Regions from separate parts of the Homo sapiens genome. Here region 2 is linked to region 1. A link means that fine-mapping ties the variant in region 1 to the expression of a gene that starts in the linked region. Tissue or cell type: whole blood. Region 1 holds a variant in brackets; the other region holds the start of a gene. All regions are shown on one strand. Distances are from middle to middle.

Region 1 (8,110 bases):
ATGATGATTATTTTTTTTTTTGGAGACAGAGTCTCGCTCTCTCACCCAGGCTGTAGTGCAGTGGCGCGATCTCGGCTCACTGCAACCTCTGCCTCCCAGGTTCAAGTGATTCTCCTGCCTCAGCTTTCTGAGTAGCTGGGATCACAGGCACATGCCACCACGCCTGGCTAATTTTTGTATTTTTAGTAGACGGGATTTCACCATGTTGCCCAGGGTGGTCTTAAACTCCTGAGCTCAGGCAATCTGCCTGCCTCTGCCTCCCTAAGTGCTAGGATTACAGGTGAAATCATGATTCTTAATGGTGGTAAAACATTTCATCATATGAATATACTACAATTTATCCAAACAATCCCCTATTGCCACATATTAAGGGTCTGTCCAGTGTTTTGTTCTTATGAATAACATGTAATGAGCATGATTTGCACAAAAACGTCTGTCTGCATTTCTGATTCCTTTTCCTTAGAATAAACTCCGAGAAGTGGAATTTCTGGATAGAAGGGCATAAACATACTTAATCCTCTAGTCTTACATAGTCATACTGACCTTTAAAACTATTTACTAATTTCTCTGAAAATGCTCACGACATCACGTTTACCAAAACTGTGTATTATTGTTAAGGGAAAGGAAAAACACTTGGTCAATTTCATAGATTAAACAACAGCATCTCTTCATTTTAATTTGCTATTGATTTTAAATATTACTTTTAATTTTCTATATTTTCTATATGTTTAATGGTAATTTGGACTTTGACTTTTGTAAACTTTCTTTCTGTGTCCTTGGCTCAAATCGAAACTTCTTGAAAGGATGCTCTCTCTCCTCACATCTCGCTCTCTGAAACCTGGGCTCTGTCCTCAATCCATCCCTCACAGCACGTCACCAGTTGGTTCCTTGCATGCTAAATCCTGCCAGCTTTTCAGCAGTTATTAGTAGACCTTCTTAGGCTTTCAGTTCCCCACACAAACCATGTCATTTCTGCCTCTGTGTTGTTGCTTACGCTGGTCTCTCGGCACGCAGGCCTCCCCCTCCCGCTTTCTGCCCAATGCTTGCATAATTACTTTCCATTCTTGAAGATTTAGCTGAGACATCATTACCTCTGTCAGCCTTCCCCATCCCCCAGCCTCTCGCCTCTCCTAAGTGCGTTTCCCTCTGTGCTTTCCGAGCACGTTGCACATTCCATGCATTCCTAATCACTGGACCGTATGGACTTCATGTTCATCCCTCCTATCAGACTGCAATGCAAGCTCCTTGTGAGTAGGAACTTTTTCTCCTTCTCCTTTGCATCCACAGTGCCGAACATAAGGTAGGCAGCTGATCAATACTGAATTGCCCTCAACAGCAGCACCTGGGCCTGGTGACCATTCCCTCCCCTTCCCGTGCTGTCTCCTCACTTGTGTCTGGCCGCCCCTCCCAGTTTCCTTCTTTGGCATCTCTTCTTTTGCCCACCCTTAAATTGTCCCCCAAGGATCTATCCTCATCCTTCTTTTCTTCCAAGTCTAATGGATCAAATCCGTATTTATAGCTTTAAGTTTCCCATCAAGTGCTGACACTCAGACCTCTCTCCTGAGCCACAAACCAGATTTTCCAACTGCCTACTGGATATTTCCATTTGGAAGTGCCACTGGCTCCTCAAAATCACCATGTTAAACACAAAGCTCATTTTCTTTTCTCCACAATTGGCTCCTTTTCCTCTCTCCCTCAGCTCCATAAATGACACCATCATCTATGTAGGTGGTGAAGCCAAAAACCCAGTAATGGATTCTCCTCTCTTCTCTGGTCACCACTCCTGTAGTTGTCACTTTCTAAAGGGCCCTCTTTAACATCTCTTGCTAACAACAAGGACAGCAGCCTTCCCAATGGGTCTCTCAGCTCAACGCTATTCATTTTCCATCAATCCTCTATGCTGCCACTAGAGCAAATTCAGTAAAATGCAGATCCCATCCGAGATTCTACCTTCAATGGCTTCCTAAGCTAGCAGCATGATACTACAGGTAGAGTAAGAACCTTGGTAGAAGCTTACCTTGTGTCCTAGAAGCTCCTTTGGGCATGTAGGTTGGACCTGTTCGGAGCTTTCTTTTCCACAGCACTGAAACTAGAGAGTCAGAAAAGAGACTTCAGGACCAGGCGGGAGGAGTAGCAGCTACAAGTCTGGGCACCCTGCTAAGGACTGGGGTGCCGAGGCGGCAAAGCAGCTCCGAGGCCCAGTCACTGCAACCCAGACTGCTATTTCTGGAAGGAGAGTGAAGAATCACATAATCATGCTGGCAAAACAAGAAAATGACTTCGCTAAAGCCATCTGAGTTTATGATGGGAAGTGACTCAAGGCAACCCAAACAAGGCAAGAAGCTAATTGACAGTGTCTGTGTAAATTGCTACTTTTTAGAAAGGGGTTGGGGCTTTAGATTCCTTCTTTCAGACTGGGAGTCATTTAACCTGCTGAGGAGCTCAAGTTTTATGAGCTGCAGAAGGACTCATTAGCTGGGAATAGTCTGGGGAAGAGGGGAGAAGTGGCTGCAGGAAATTCCAGGGTCCAAAAGACCAGATTTGAAGATTGGCCAGCAAACAGGTGTCCTGCTTAGGCTAGCTGGCCCTTTAAGACAAAAGAACCTGTGTGCTGCTTCAGGTCCTGGCGGCAGCTGAGGTGAAACCGTATAAATGTATAAATGGTGGCCACTTTCCAAGACATACTTGTCCTAGACAAGAACTAGGTACCTGAAAACACCTGGCCCAGGAATTCACAGCTACTTCTTCATATCACAGTGTCTAAAAAATCAGAATAACTCTGGCCTGGCCCATCTCCTCTGTAAGCCTTCTGTGATTAACTGCATGTAGCTCTGAGCACTCCACGGACAGCACAGTCCCACTGAATGTTCCAGAAGGGAGTGTAGCCATCTCCTGTGACCCTTCATTCTACAAATGAGGGAGCTGCGTGGGTATCAGGGAGGCCAAGTAACTTGCTCAAGGTCACAAGGCTGTTGAATGGTAGAGCTGCAGCTAGAAATTAGCTTTTCTGACTTACAGGTCACACTTGTTTCTGTTACACCACAATGCTACCCTCTGACAAAGCCTGCTATTTATCTGGGCTCCTTTCTCTGTAACCTTGTTTGTGCTCTTTTGTCTCTTTGGGGCATGTGTCTTTTGGGTTCATGCTCTTCTGTCTCTCTTGTGAACTCTGTGTGATAGACATCTTTCCCTTCTAGGGTTCCACACATAATGCAAACTGTGGCCCTCAAAAGGGCTAAAATAGGTGGTGCTACTTGGCTTTACTGAATTTATTTTTATTTTTAATCCTGGTGATTGGTGAGAACCTGGCTCACACATAATCTTTAGAAGCTGTGATTTTAAGGAAGAAGTGAAGTTACTCACTGTTGAGTGGAAGGTGATGAGTGTCCCATTGCCTTTTCCCCTGTCTTTAAGGTAATCATTGTAAGCCTCTTCATACATGGTCTGAACATGTCGGATAGCCTGAAGAAATACAAGGAAAAATGAAGGACTTCTGGGTGGGAAGTTTCAAACATTCTCCTTTCATCAAGGAAAATCTCCTCTTCCACACCTTTGAAAAACACTGCCTTTCTCATAAGAATGATACAATGGACTTTGGGGACTCAGGGGAAAGGGTAGGAGTGAGGTGAGGGATAAAAGACTGCACATTGGGTACAGTGTACACTGCTCGGGTGATGGGTGCACCAAAATCTCAGAAATCCCCACTAGAGAACTTACTCATGTAACCAAACACCACCTGTTCCCCACAAAACCTGTAGAAATAAAAAAAAATACTGCCTTTCCATAGGTATTTTAGGATAATTCAGCAACATATGGAGAAGATTATAGTTTCTGGAGTTTCTAAGATGCTTTTGAGGATGGAAGGACAGACTAACCAGAACAGTTTTCATGGACTAGAAAGATTTCTGACAGTTCCCAAGCCCAACTGGGCTTCAGCATCAACTGGGCCCCAGATTCCTGGGCTCCATCCAGATGATTTGGATGCATAGCTAGGATCCGGACTTATACATTCCTGTTACCCCATTGGTTAAAAGCATTCAAATCTTTTTATGACGTGGTTTAAAAGGTATTCATCACCAAGGAAAACTTTCTACATTCAGATATCATATAAAGCTTAGAGAATGCTTTTTCTAGTATAAAAGCTTGTGATTTCAAATCCACAGATATCTCAACAGGTCCTAAGATTCCATTCTACTTCTGTATGTAGCTGAATTTAAACTAACCTATGAACACAGCCAGTTACTTTAGAAAAATTCAAAAGGAGGTGACATTTACTATTCTACATGTTTACTGTTTTATAGTCTAAAATAAGTTCAGAAACATAATATTAATGACACAAGAGTTAATGTGAAATACACCAAACTTAAGTTTCCATTCTTCCTCCTTTTCCATTCCATTCTCTTCTATCCCACAGTGTGTTTTACAGAGGAAGAAAGGCTACTTCCTCTGTGTGTCCCCCCGATAA[C/G]CTATTCTGGACACCTAGAGTTGGGCAGCAAATATAAACTGGCTTCACTAGCCCACAGCAGTGTAGGCTCTGCTCTTTGAGAATGAAATGGACCCATCCAGGCCAATCCTTAAGGACAAATGGCAGTCTGACAGGGGATGAGAATCTAGATTCTTTCTCAAGTCTGTACTCTAACTGTTACCCCATTTCACAATGGGGAAGAATCTTAAATTAGAGATCCTTTTTTTTTTGGTTTTATTATAGACCACTTCATAAGTCTAATGGAAGAGATGAACTATCTCCCCAGAAAAATGTGAGCATGTATATATGCCTGCACACTCATATACATATATGCTCAGTTCTGCACACCACTTCTAAGTTAAAAAGTTCTGTTTAAACTATAATAATGGGGATTATTTGGTTTCTTAACACTATTGTGGGTATCAATATTCTAACACTTTTAACCATCATAGAAAAACATTATAAGTAATTTTACTTACTACCCCCTTGCCTATAAAAGCAAATACTCCAGTGGTTACTTCAGCAGCAAATATCACCAGGAGGCAGGTAAAAAACTGTAGAGGAGAGAAAATACTAATTTCATTAATTTAATACCTTTTCAATTTATATATTTTGCACCTTAGTTTCCTTATGTAATGGCTGAATCGCTTTCATGTGGTTCATTCATTCATTCATTCATTCAGCAATTGTTTATTAGGCATTTATTCTGCACCAGGTACTGTCCTTGGTGCTGACTATTCAGTGGTGAACAAGATAATATCCAAATGTCTCTGTTATCACGGACCTTGGATTGGACAGAGGAATATACGATAACTGTGTAAAGAAGTTAAAAAGTGAATAAGATAAGTTCAGGTAGTGATGTAAAAATCCCACCACCTAGAACACCACCTGGCACCTACGTGCTTAGTAAATACTTGACGAACACAAAAGACCTAGAAAGATATAAAATAAGGTCAGGAGAGGGAGCATCACTGATGCGGCCTGGGCATGGGGAAGGGGGTGACTGGAGATTCTGTGGTCTGGAAAGGCTTCTTTGAGGAGATGAGGTGAGGGGTGTCCTTCTGGATGGATTTCTGTTCTGGTCTATGGATTTGCTCTGATCAAACTAAGTTCAGTGATAAACAAGACAGAAATGTGCTCAACAGTAGGAGAAAGAGAAGGAATGAATGGCAAAGAAATAAGTCAGACATTTCACATAGCAAGAGATCAGAGGCTACGGCCAGAGTTAAAAATCCAAATATCACAATAAGTAATGAGAGATGAGAGGCTGCCTATTAAAACTGCTGTTTCTGACTCCCTGTGGAGAAATATCAACACTTTCTCTCCTCCTGCCCCTCTTCTTCCTTTCTGTTTCTCTCAGGCTACACTGACATAGAATGTATAGCAGTTAATTGAAATTATTTGATTTTTGTTTTAAACAGAGGTTGCTTGTTAAAATAAGCCACAAGAGGGATTTTGGTTAAGTTATTGATCTCAAACATAAATGTTTTCCTTGTAGATAACAGCACTTCCCTGGCTATAGAAACCTTTTAGCTGCCTCACCCACTGTGAAATATTTTTTTTTAAAGAACAATCATAGTCACCCCTTACAATTACTAAGTACTTTTACTCCCAAAACATCTTTACACCAATGACGTCATTTCTTTTCACACTTCCCATATAAGGCAGGAACAAAGATAATATTTTTTTTCTTTTTTCTTTTTTCAAGACAAGGTTTTGCTCTGTCGCCCAGGTTGGAGTGCAGTGGTACAGTCATGGCTCACTGCAGCCTCCCAACTCCTGGTCTTAAGTGATCCTCCTGCCTCAGCCTCCTGAGTAGCTGGGACCACAGGTGTGTGCCATCACACCCGGTAGAGACTAGGTCTCCCTGTGTTGCCCAAGCTAGTCTTAAACTCCTGGGCTCCAGAGATCCTCCTGCCTCAGCCTCCCAAAGTGCTGGGATTACAGGCGTGAGTCATGGCACCCGGCCCTAGTTAGTATTATTCATATATAAGAGATGGAGAAACCAAGACTGAGGGAGGAAAAGTGCATGCCAAGGGCTCAGAGAGTCCACGGAGGAGCTGGAGCCAGGGGCCAGAGGCACTGACTCCCTTCAGATGCAGGCCGCTCCCTCACCCCCACCCCACCATTTACCCCCTCGCCCCACTTACTGATCCAAGCACACATTGCGACTCCCGCATGGCTCCGCAGCACCCGAAGAACCCCACGGCCATCATCAGGGCCCCGGCTCCAACCAGAACATACAGCCCTGTGGGGAAGAGGTCAGAGGAGACCACTGAGAGCCAACCGAGTGCCTCCACGACCAACTAGGCTTAAGACTCTGGGCACTGCAGAGCATTCTAATAGTACCAAAAGGAGGTGCTATTCTTACTGCCATGTTTGACACGGAGGAACTGGGCCCCAAAAGGTAAAGCGATTTGCTTAAGGTCATAGAGCTGGTGTTTGGCAGAGCCGGGAGAAAAATAGCCATGAGCCTCAAAAGCCTGCCCAACACTCCGACTCTGTCTTGCATCTCTAGTGATGGAGGCAGCCATCATTCAGGTGGGGATTTCACTTACTGCTTAGGCAAGCCCCACGTACAGTTCTTACAGAGAAAGAAAAGGACAGAAATGCTCTGGTTCTGAGAGAACTAAAGCCAAGCCTTTTTGTATTTCCTTCTCTGATCCTGAGATAAGTTAGAATACAATATGGGACTTGGCACTTGTCTTACTTGGAATCATGTTAATGGTCTCTATTTCATTTTTTGCATTTTACTCATATGAGTCACCTGGAAACCACTCCCATTAATAGGGAGGGTGGGGGCTGGTGCCCCGCCTCTGTGGGGAACCCCTGGGCCTGGCATTCAGGGTGCTTCCTGGGGCGCCTCTGGGTTGCTGATGGTGGTTTGCGGGCAGATCTGGCAGTTTACAGACCTAGTAGGAGCCACAGGCGAGGCTGCTCTGCTTCCTGCCCCACCCGGACCTGGCCTCAGCGTTCTTTTCAGGGCCCTGAGGCCTTGCTGCTCTGCAGTCCTGAGGTGGGTATTTATTTCCTGCTGTTCTAGCTCTACCACCTCCTCCCTTTCCCTTTTCTCTAAAAGAATAATTTCATGAGGGAATGGATGTGGTAATGTGAGAAATGATATCATATTAAAAATAATAGTGTTGTTGGCCCCACTACCTCAACACTTTATTGTTTTAAAAATGTCTTTCACCAAAGGTCTAATATCCAGAATCTGTAAGGAACTTAAACAAATCAACAAGCAAAAGGCAAATAACTCCATTAAAAAGTGGGCAAAAGACATAAACAGACAATTCTCCAAAGAAGACATGCAAGCGAGCAACAAACATGAAATAATGCTCGTCATCTCTAATCATCAGAGAAATGCAAATCAAAACCACAATGAGATACCATCTCATACCAGTCAGAATGGCTTTTGTTAAAAAGTCAAAAATAACAGATGTTGGCAAGGCTGGGAGTAAAGGGGACACTTTATACAATGTTGCGAATGTAAATCAGTACAGCCACTGCAGAAGGCAGTTTGGAGATGACTCAAACAACTGAGTTGAACTACCACTCGACCCGGCAATCCCATTGCTGGGTAAATACCTAAAGGAAAATAAGTCATTCTGTCAAAAGGGTACATGTTCACTGCAGCACTATTCA
Region 2 (8,110 bases), 30 kb after region 1:
TGAATTTAGACATGACAGATGTTGGGAGGGGTTTCACATTTGACATCAACCACGATAAGAGAAATTAATGTAGTGGGGTTAATGGCTAGGCTTTATTTTGTTTTTAAAAATTCAGTGGTGAGTACAGTCAGCGGCCCTGGGCCAGGGAATACTGTGCTGGCTCTGGCAGGGCCTGGTTGTATGTTTATGAAACCAGGAGCACAGCCTAGGGAAACTTAAAGCAAGCTGCCAGAGGAGGCTGCAAATTGATCTGTTAAATCGCAGATCACCAAACAGAACCTGTCCCACCTCTATGCTTACTTCTGGCGAGGTTCTGATTGGAAGGAAGTGCTGTCACCCAAGGAACCCCGTAACTCCGAGGGGCAGGCACATGAGCTTCTAAGGGTGTGTGTAAATTTATACTTCAGTCACAGCTAAAGTCTGGCCTTCTAGGAAAACTATCCCCCACCCCTTTCCCAAACTTCCCACGAAGCCCTCCAACCACAAAAAAACAACTTTAGAAACTTGAGTGGGGCTTTTCTGGAATCAGGTTCCCTCAGTTACAGTGAAGGCAGATATCTAGATACTTTATCCCACACTTTCCCTTAAGTCATGAGGTGCCTGTTTCAGTTGCCTCTTCGCTCTAGTTGCTGCCTCCACCCCCACCCCCCATGAAACTGGGGGAGAGGAAGGTCCTTCATGTCCTACTGCATGCCTTCTATATGCTAGGCACTATTCTAGCACTGGGGATACAGCTATGAGCAAAACAGAAAAAACAAAATTCCTGCTCTCAGAGTGTTTTAAGTTCTAGTGGGGAAAATCCACAAGTACAAATTGACAAGATAAGGTGTAGTTATCCTCAAATGAAGACAAATGGCAAGTCACTTGGCAAACTTATATACTATTCCCCACCAAGAAAGGAATCAGGAGAAAGAGAGCTAACATTTATTGAATGCTTCCTATGTGCCGATAACAAAAATAATAATTAATATTTTTGAGCATTTACTATGTCCTAGGCTCATAGGAAGTTGAGGTCACATACTTTATATATTCCCTCTTAATCCTCTCAATATTTCTGTTACTCCAATAGCACAGATGAGAAAACAAGCCTAGAAGTAACAATAACTTGCTCAAGTACACCCTGTTTGTGCAGGCACGCCCTGCTTGGGATCTCTGCACTCCAGCCTGATGGCTTCGACAGTCAGATGGTGGCGCACACTCCCCCTTGCTCTGCTCCTCTGCTGGTGGATGGTGCGTCACCCCCTCGCTTTGCCCAGCTCCATTCTACCAGTCCTTCCAGGTTTAGCTCGAATAGCTCCTTCTTAAGGAGAACTTTTCTGGCTCCTCATCATGACTGTGATCCTTTCTCTAAACTCCTTACTTAGATCACATATAGAGAAGGTCGGATCTAACCTCACTGGTTAACACATTCAAGCACTTAAAACTGCACTGCTCCTACTTCCTTTCCTTACTGTGCTTACGGTCAACAGTGTGAAACTTGTCACTTGATTCCACACTGTCTTATTTTTGTGTTGTTCCATATCCACTGGTCTCGTTTCCTCAATGAGATGAGCAGCTTAGGGAACTGTGTTTATATTTATAAATTATTATTTGTTTAATCATTGTTTAACAGAATGGGTCTCAAATTTGAGCATGGATCAGAATTATGTGAATGGCTTGTTAAATTAGATTGCTGGATCCTACCCCCAGAGTTTCTGATTCAGCAAGTCTGGGATGAGCTGAGAATTTTGTTTGTTTGTTTGTTTGTTTTTGAGATGGAGTTTCGCTCTTGTTGCCCAGGCTGGAGTGCAATGTGGCACCATCTCAGCTCACTGCAACCTCTGCCTCCCGGGTTCAAGAGATTCTTCTGCTTCAGCCTCCCAAGTAGCTGGGATTACAGGCACCCACCACCATGCCCGGCTAATTTTTGTACTTTAGTAGAGATGAGGTTTCATCATGTTGGCCAGGCTGGTCTCGAACTCCTGACCTCAGGTGATCCGCCTGCCTTGGCCTCCTAAAGTGCTGGGATTACAGGCATGAGCCACTGTGCCCGGCCTGAGAATTTGTATTTCTGACAAATTCCCAGGATATGCTGATGCTGCTGGCCCAGGAACCACTTTTGAGAACCACTGGTTAATTGAATGTACCACAGTGCTTAAGAGAAGGTAGGCGGCCAGGCGCGGTGGCTCACGCCTGTAATCTCAGCACTTTGGGAGGCTGAGGCAGGCAGATCATGAGGTCAGAAGATGGAGACCATCCTGGCTAACACGGTAAAATCCCGTCTGTACTAAAAATACAAAAAAACTAGCCAGACGTGGCGGAGGGTGCTTGTAGTCCCAGCTATTTGGGCGGCTGAGGCAGGAGAATGGCGTGCATCTGGGAGGTGGAGCTTGCAGTGAGTGGAGATCGGGCCACTGCACTCCAGCCTGGGCTACAGAGTGAGACTCCGTCTCAAAAAAAAAAAAAAAAAAAGAGAAGGTAGGCTGAGTTTGAATACCATCCCTGCCACTCACTAGCTGTGTGATCTTAGGTGACTTAACCAATTTGAGCCTGTTTCCTCATCTGTAAAAAATGGGGATAATAATAGTATATGTATATCAGGACTCTTGTGAGGATTATGTGTAATAATGAAAGTAATATGCTTAGCACTGTCCCTGACACATTGAAAACATTCAATGAATCCTTCCAGCTATCACTGGAAAGGCTGGTACAATATCAGCCACTAAATAAGCACTGAACCCAGCTTAAGAATTCCTCCTCAGGCTTAAAACTTCATAAGGCTTTGAATTCATAAGCAGTGAGAATGAAGGTTGTCACTGTGGCGTGACATCTATAATTAACAGCTTCTGAAATTAAGCCAGATTCCTAAAAAATACAACATAAAGGGTCTTCAGAAACGCCTCTCCCTATAGTATGCTTGATGTAAATCCCCACGTGTACAAAGGCCATGTGTCTCTTTAAAGTTCAGGGGATGTCGAGGAGGTACCTCCTTCACACCTTCCACTGCTGAAGGATACTGAAGAGCTTGGAGTTGCTGAAGTCACCCAGGCATCTGGGCTAATGGATTGACAGACAAAAGAGGAGCCCATCATTCAATAATTAATTAGTTGCAATCATGGGAAGACAACGTCCCCCAGAGCAGATAGGACAGCCACCTCCTCCAACCTGGTAGTTTCAAAGCACCCAGGCCCTGGCTGCTCTCAAACCTCTTTATCCAATGTTTCCCCTCAGGGTCTAGCTGAGCAGTTACACTGGCTGACATTCTCTTAAGAAAGCCCAAGAGGAAATGTGCAGAAAAGACAATTTTCAGACCTTGTCTCACAGTCCTGCAGGCCCTGGGACAGGGTATCCAGGGATGTAGGTCTGGTCTAGCTGTATCCCTGTCTCGATAATATAGGAGACAAGGGTCAAGATCCTATCTCTCTGTGAACCATGAATCCTGGGAACGCTGTCAGTTCAATCAAACCCTGCAAAGTTGAATGAGATCATCTCTGGGAGAATTAGTATTTAGCAGAGGCTGCGGCTGGGGGTTGTGGAGAGCTGCTGCTGCCCTTTAGAAGCCCTTCCATTCCCCATCCCCTTCTCAGAAGAGAACCCACCACCTCCTCTCACCCAGGGGTACTCTTACCCTGATGCCCAGAAAAAGGACGACGCCCCCCCACCACAATTTTCACTCCTATCTCCAATTTCCTAAACAAAACCATCACAGCCAGGTACAGTGTCCACACACTCGAATGGAGCACCACCCCAGGCAGCCCCAGGGCAGGGGTTTCTCTCCCATCACCCTGGCCAGGCCCTGGTTCCAGCTGGTAGGCAGAGTGAAAAGGGGGTGTGTGCACGGGAGACTGGAGGGGAACAGGGACCCAAGTCCTCCGGAGGTGAGGAGAGGCTGGGTCCCCGCACCTGGGGTCACTAGCTGGGAGATAAAAACCAAGGCAGGTGGGGGTTCCTTCCAGGAAAGAGCCACACGGTGTCTCTCCCCTTCTCACCATTTCTCATTGATCAACCTTCTGTCTTCCCGTTCTCTCCCTTCCATCCCTCCCCTCCCTCTTTGTTTGCCTTCTCCTCGCCTCCGCGTTTGAGCACCCAGCCCTCCCCACGAGCGCGACTCGGACGCCGCAGTCAGCAGCTCGGGGACCCCGGCCCCGCGCCCGCCACCCGGCCCCCTGCCCTGACCGGCCCTCCCGGCTCCTGGTCTCACCCAGAAGAGCAGGTTGAAGCCAAGCAGCAGGTACTTGATGCACCGCAGGCCCCCGCGGAAGCGCCCCATGCTGCGGCCCGGCGGCGGGATCCCCAGTCCCCAGGCCCGCGCTACGAGCGCGGGGAGCGGCAGGCTCCGGCGGGGAGGGGGCGGAGCGGGGAGGACCGGGGCGGGGCCTCCGGGGGGCGGGGCGGGGCCCGGCGGGGAGGGGCGCGTGGACCCCAAGCGGCGTGGCTGGCGACGGGTGGGGGCGCCAGCGGGTGGAGATCGAGCAGCCCGAGGGAGCACGTTCGCTCTTCTCCCGGACCCAGGGACCACCTTCCTTCCCTCCAGTGGGCGCACCGCCGCCGGCTATCGGAGCACCTGCAGGGCGGGAGCGCCCACCGGGGACTGGGGACCCATTTAATCAGCGCCCTGTGCGGAGACCGGTTTGAGGCCCGGGCGATGCTTGAGGGATAAGCACTTGGTCTCGTGGCTATGGAAATCTAGGAAGGTGACCTCGGGTAGAAGAGCTAAGTGGGGTCGGAGGTTGCCCCGAAGCTGGCAGGACCAGTCGCGGGGCACCTGACTGAGTGTCCAGGGCTGCGGCTCCGCGGCGCGGAGCAAGCACACAAGCAGCTTCTAGGGGACCCTCCCTCCGGCCCCTCCCCCCTCCTCGGGGGACTCTTACCTTAATAGGCAAGAACTGAGAGAGGGTGCGGGAGGCGGCGCCCTGAGTCCTGTGGGCTGCCCTCAACCCAGCCGGCCAGTGGAGGGAGTCTGACTTCTCATGTCCTGCCGGGTTCCACTGATCGGAGGGCTTGGAAGGATCCCAAATTTTCGGGATCTTAATTATGATGTGGAGATGGGAGAAAGGGGAAGGGGGCGGTTTTTGTTTTGCTTTGTTTTTATTAAGTTAGGCTGTTGGCAGGAAAATCAGACTCCCACTTCCATTGACTAAGTGTCTACAATATGTGGTGTCAGACAGTATGGGGGAGACAAGAAAGCAAAATTCGGAGAGCTTATGCATAAATTCAGCAAAACTTTGAGTGCCTATTATAGGCCAGACATAGTAGCAAGCCCCAGGGACTCAACAATGAGGAGACAGCCAGGCCCAGAACCACAGTCTCTGGTGTTGGAGACAGATCTGTAAGCAAATAGGGTGAGGAGAGAAGGGCTGGGTGCTAGACAGGTGTGCCTGGCCTGACTGCCTTAACCAGAAAAGGCATTGCTAAGGAGAGGGGCCTGATCTGGTCTAGAAGACGGAGCCCAGGCGGAAAAGATCAGTCCAGGAAGACAGCATGCGCAAAAGCACAGAGCTGGAGAGAACAAGGCCTCCAAGGGAGTTCTGAGAACCGCAGTTAGCCCGAGTGAAGCCTGGTGGGGGCAGAGTGAGTCAGGAAGGCAGGAGCCAAATCACAGCTTTCAGTCGGCTGACCAATGTGCCAAACTGTCATTGGCCCCGAGTGTCCCCACGTGCAACATGGAGGTAATAGTACTCCCCTCATAGAGTTGTGAAGATAAATGAGTTAGTATTTGTGAAGTGCCTAGAACAGTGCCTGGCACAGATTAAGTACTGCATAAGGGTTAGTATTATTGTATCACACTCTTATCAGTCAACCATTCAGTTTCTACCATGTTGCCATCTTTGCCTACCTCTGTGTCTTTGGACATTTGTTTGAATATCGACTCATTTATAAAAACGAGTCAAAGACAGAAAAATGAAAGTGCTGATTCTAGTAATAAACATGTCTCCAACAATGAAATAAAGACAAAGATGGAAGTCATTAGGTATGCAGAGAGAAGTGAATCATTAGCTTCAATCAAACACTTATAGTTCTATATCTGTCACCTCTGTTTTAGTATAAAGGAAAAGAACTAAGTTAAAGAGTAGTGTCTGGTACATAGAAGGCGTTCAGTAAATCAACTGAATGAACAATGATATTATACTTTAAATATATCGTTGAATTTTACATCTCTAAGACAAAATATGTCTAGAGATTATATAGAGGGAAGAGAACCCCTATTGTAACATATACATCTATTGTTTGTTTTTTTCATGCTACGATTTTAGCACACATGTATTAGAGACAGATGGTGGTTGCCTGTCCAACATAACAGTTTCAGATCTTTAGTATAGACTTGCCCAGTCGCCCTTTCACAAAGTTGTATGTCTTAAGGGAAGCTGACCCTTGAGAGGAATAGGCGAAGGTAATCCCATTTCCCTTGTAGTTAGTTCAGGAAACAAATTGACAAGCATCCTGACTAATGGGATGGGAGTGGTGTCTACTGAGGGGCCAGATGGTCTTCTTCCTCTTGAAGCTGTTGGATCTGGATGGTATACATAGAGTTGCTATATCCATCTTCATACCAGCCTGAGGAGAGATCCAACATTGAAAACAGCAAAGCAGGAAGTTGAAAAAACCAGAGTCATAGGTGATATTACGCCATAACTGAGTTAGCCATTTCTGAAGCCAATTGAGGTTTAGGTTTTTGTGTACATGTATGTGTATGTGTGTGGACGCATGTGTGTTAGTCCATTCTTGTGTTGCTACAAAGTAGTACCTGAGACTGGGTAATCTCTAAAGAAAAGAGATTTAATTGGCTCACAGTTATGCAGGCTGTACAGGAAGCATAGTGCTGACATCTGCTTCTGGTGAGGCCTCAGGAAGCTTTCAGTTGTGGTGGAAGGTCACAGGGAGCCAGTGTGTACACAGCGAGAGTGGGAGCAAAAGAAGTGGGGAGTTCCACACTCTTTTAAACAACCAGATATCACATGTGAACTCAGAGCAAGAACTCACTCATTATAGGGAGGATGGCATCCAGCCATTCATGAAGGATCCACTCCGATCCAATACCTCACACAAGGTCCCACTTCCAACATGAGGAATTGCCATCATCAACATATATGTATGTATTGTGCCTGAAAGGCATTCCATACATTTTCAAGGGTATATTACTATAAGAAAGTACAGGGCTACATTAAATGACATAATAAGGAAGTTAGCCTTTAAACTGTCACTGGCATTGCTCCCTTTTCTCTTTTTCCTGTCTTGAACTCAGACATGATGCTTGAAGTGCTAGAACATTTTGTGACTATGAAGAAAGGGCAAGACAATTGCAGACCTTCCAGCTAGGACATTGTGGAACTGCTGAACCAATACCAGCAGCTACCTAACTCCACATTTCTTATTATATAGGAAAAATAACCCTCTTTTTGTTTGACTTTGTGTTGTTACATGTAGCTAAAGATATTCCTGACTGGTAGAGGGAAGACAATACATTCATTTTTGGATCTGCTGAGTTTTAGATATGGTGGGAAATCCAGATGATGTGGAAATATGATTGGATTCTGGAGAAAGGTTTGGATGGTAAGTTTAGGGTAAAGATTCTTCAGCAAATGGTGATAAATAGAAGCCAGTGGTCTTAAAACTGTTGCCCACACATGCCCTAAAATAGTTACAAAAATATTTTCTCTTGCATTTTTTCCCAATATTTTATTATGAATATTTTCAAACGTACAAAAAATTTGAAATAGTTGGGCAAGGAGCACCATATACTCACCATCTAGATGCTACAATAAACATTTTGCTTTGGTTGCATTACTTATCTATACATCTGTCCATTTCTCAATCTATTTTTTTTTATTTATTTCCAAATAAATTGTAGGCAGTATGTTTCACTCCTAAACTCTTGAGCATGCATAACATTACCTAGAGTTCAAATATCTATTTACTATTTTTCTAAAATTTACCCCAATGAAATGTACACATTTTAAGTATATTATTTAATAATTCTTGACAATGCTTTTGCCTTTCTAACCCCGAATCCTATTAAGATATAGAATATTACTGTCACCCCAGGAAGCTTTCAGGCTTTCATATAACCCTTCCCAGTCAATCTATGCCCACATCCCTCCTAAAGGCAAACACTGTTCTGATTTTCTTTCAC

The links. PIP is the estimated chance that this variant, and not a neighbour inherited with it, causes the effect.
Region 2: it holds the start of TSPAN2, and the variant in region 1 is fine-mapped to the expression of TSPAN2 in whole blood (TOPMed, PIP above 0.99).

What each region holds. Positions count from the first base shown.
Region 1 is chr1:115,055,520-115,063,629 of GRCh38, forward strand. It overlaps TSPAN2 (tetraspanin 2), which reads right to left. Exons shown (of 8, transcript NM_005725.6): 3 at 6,616-6,713; 4 at 4,945-5,019; 5 at 3,364-3,462; 6 at 2,018-2,089. Among named protein-coding and RNA genes, the nearest start is that of TSHB, 30 kb to the left of the region's middle. RefSeq lists an enhancer at 6,813-7,336. The variant C/G (reference allele first, on the strand shown) is at 4,466.
Region 2 is chr1:115,085,184-115,093,293 of GRCh38, forward strand. It overlaps TSPAN2 (tetraspanin 2), which reads right to left and starts at 4,320. Exons shown (of 8, transcript NM_005725.6): 1 at 4,181-4,320. The coding sequence starts at 4,249.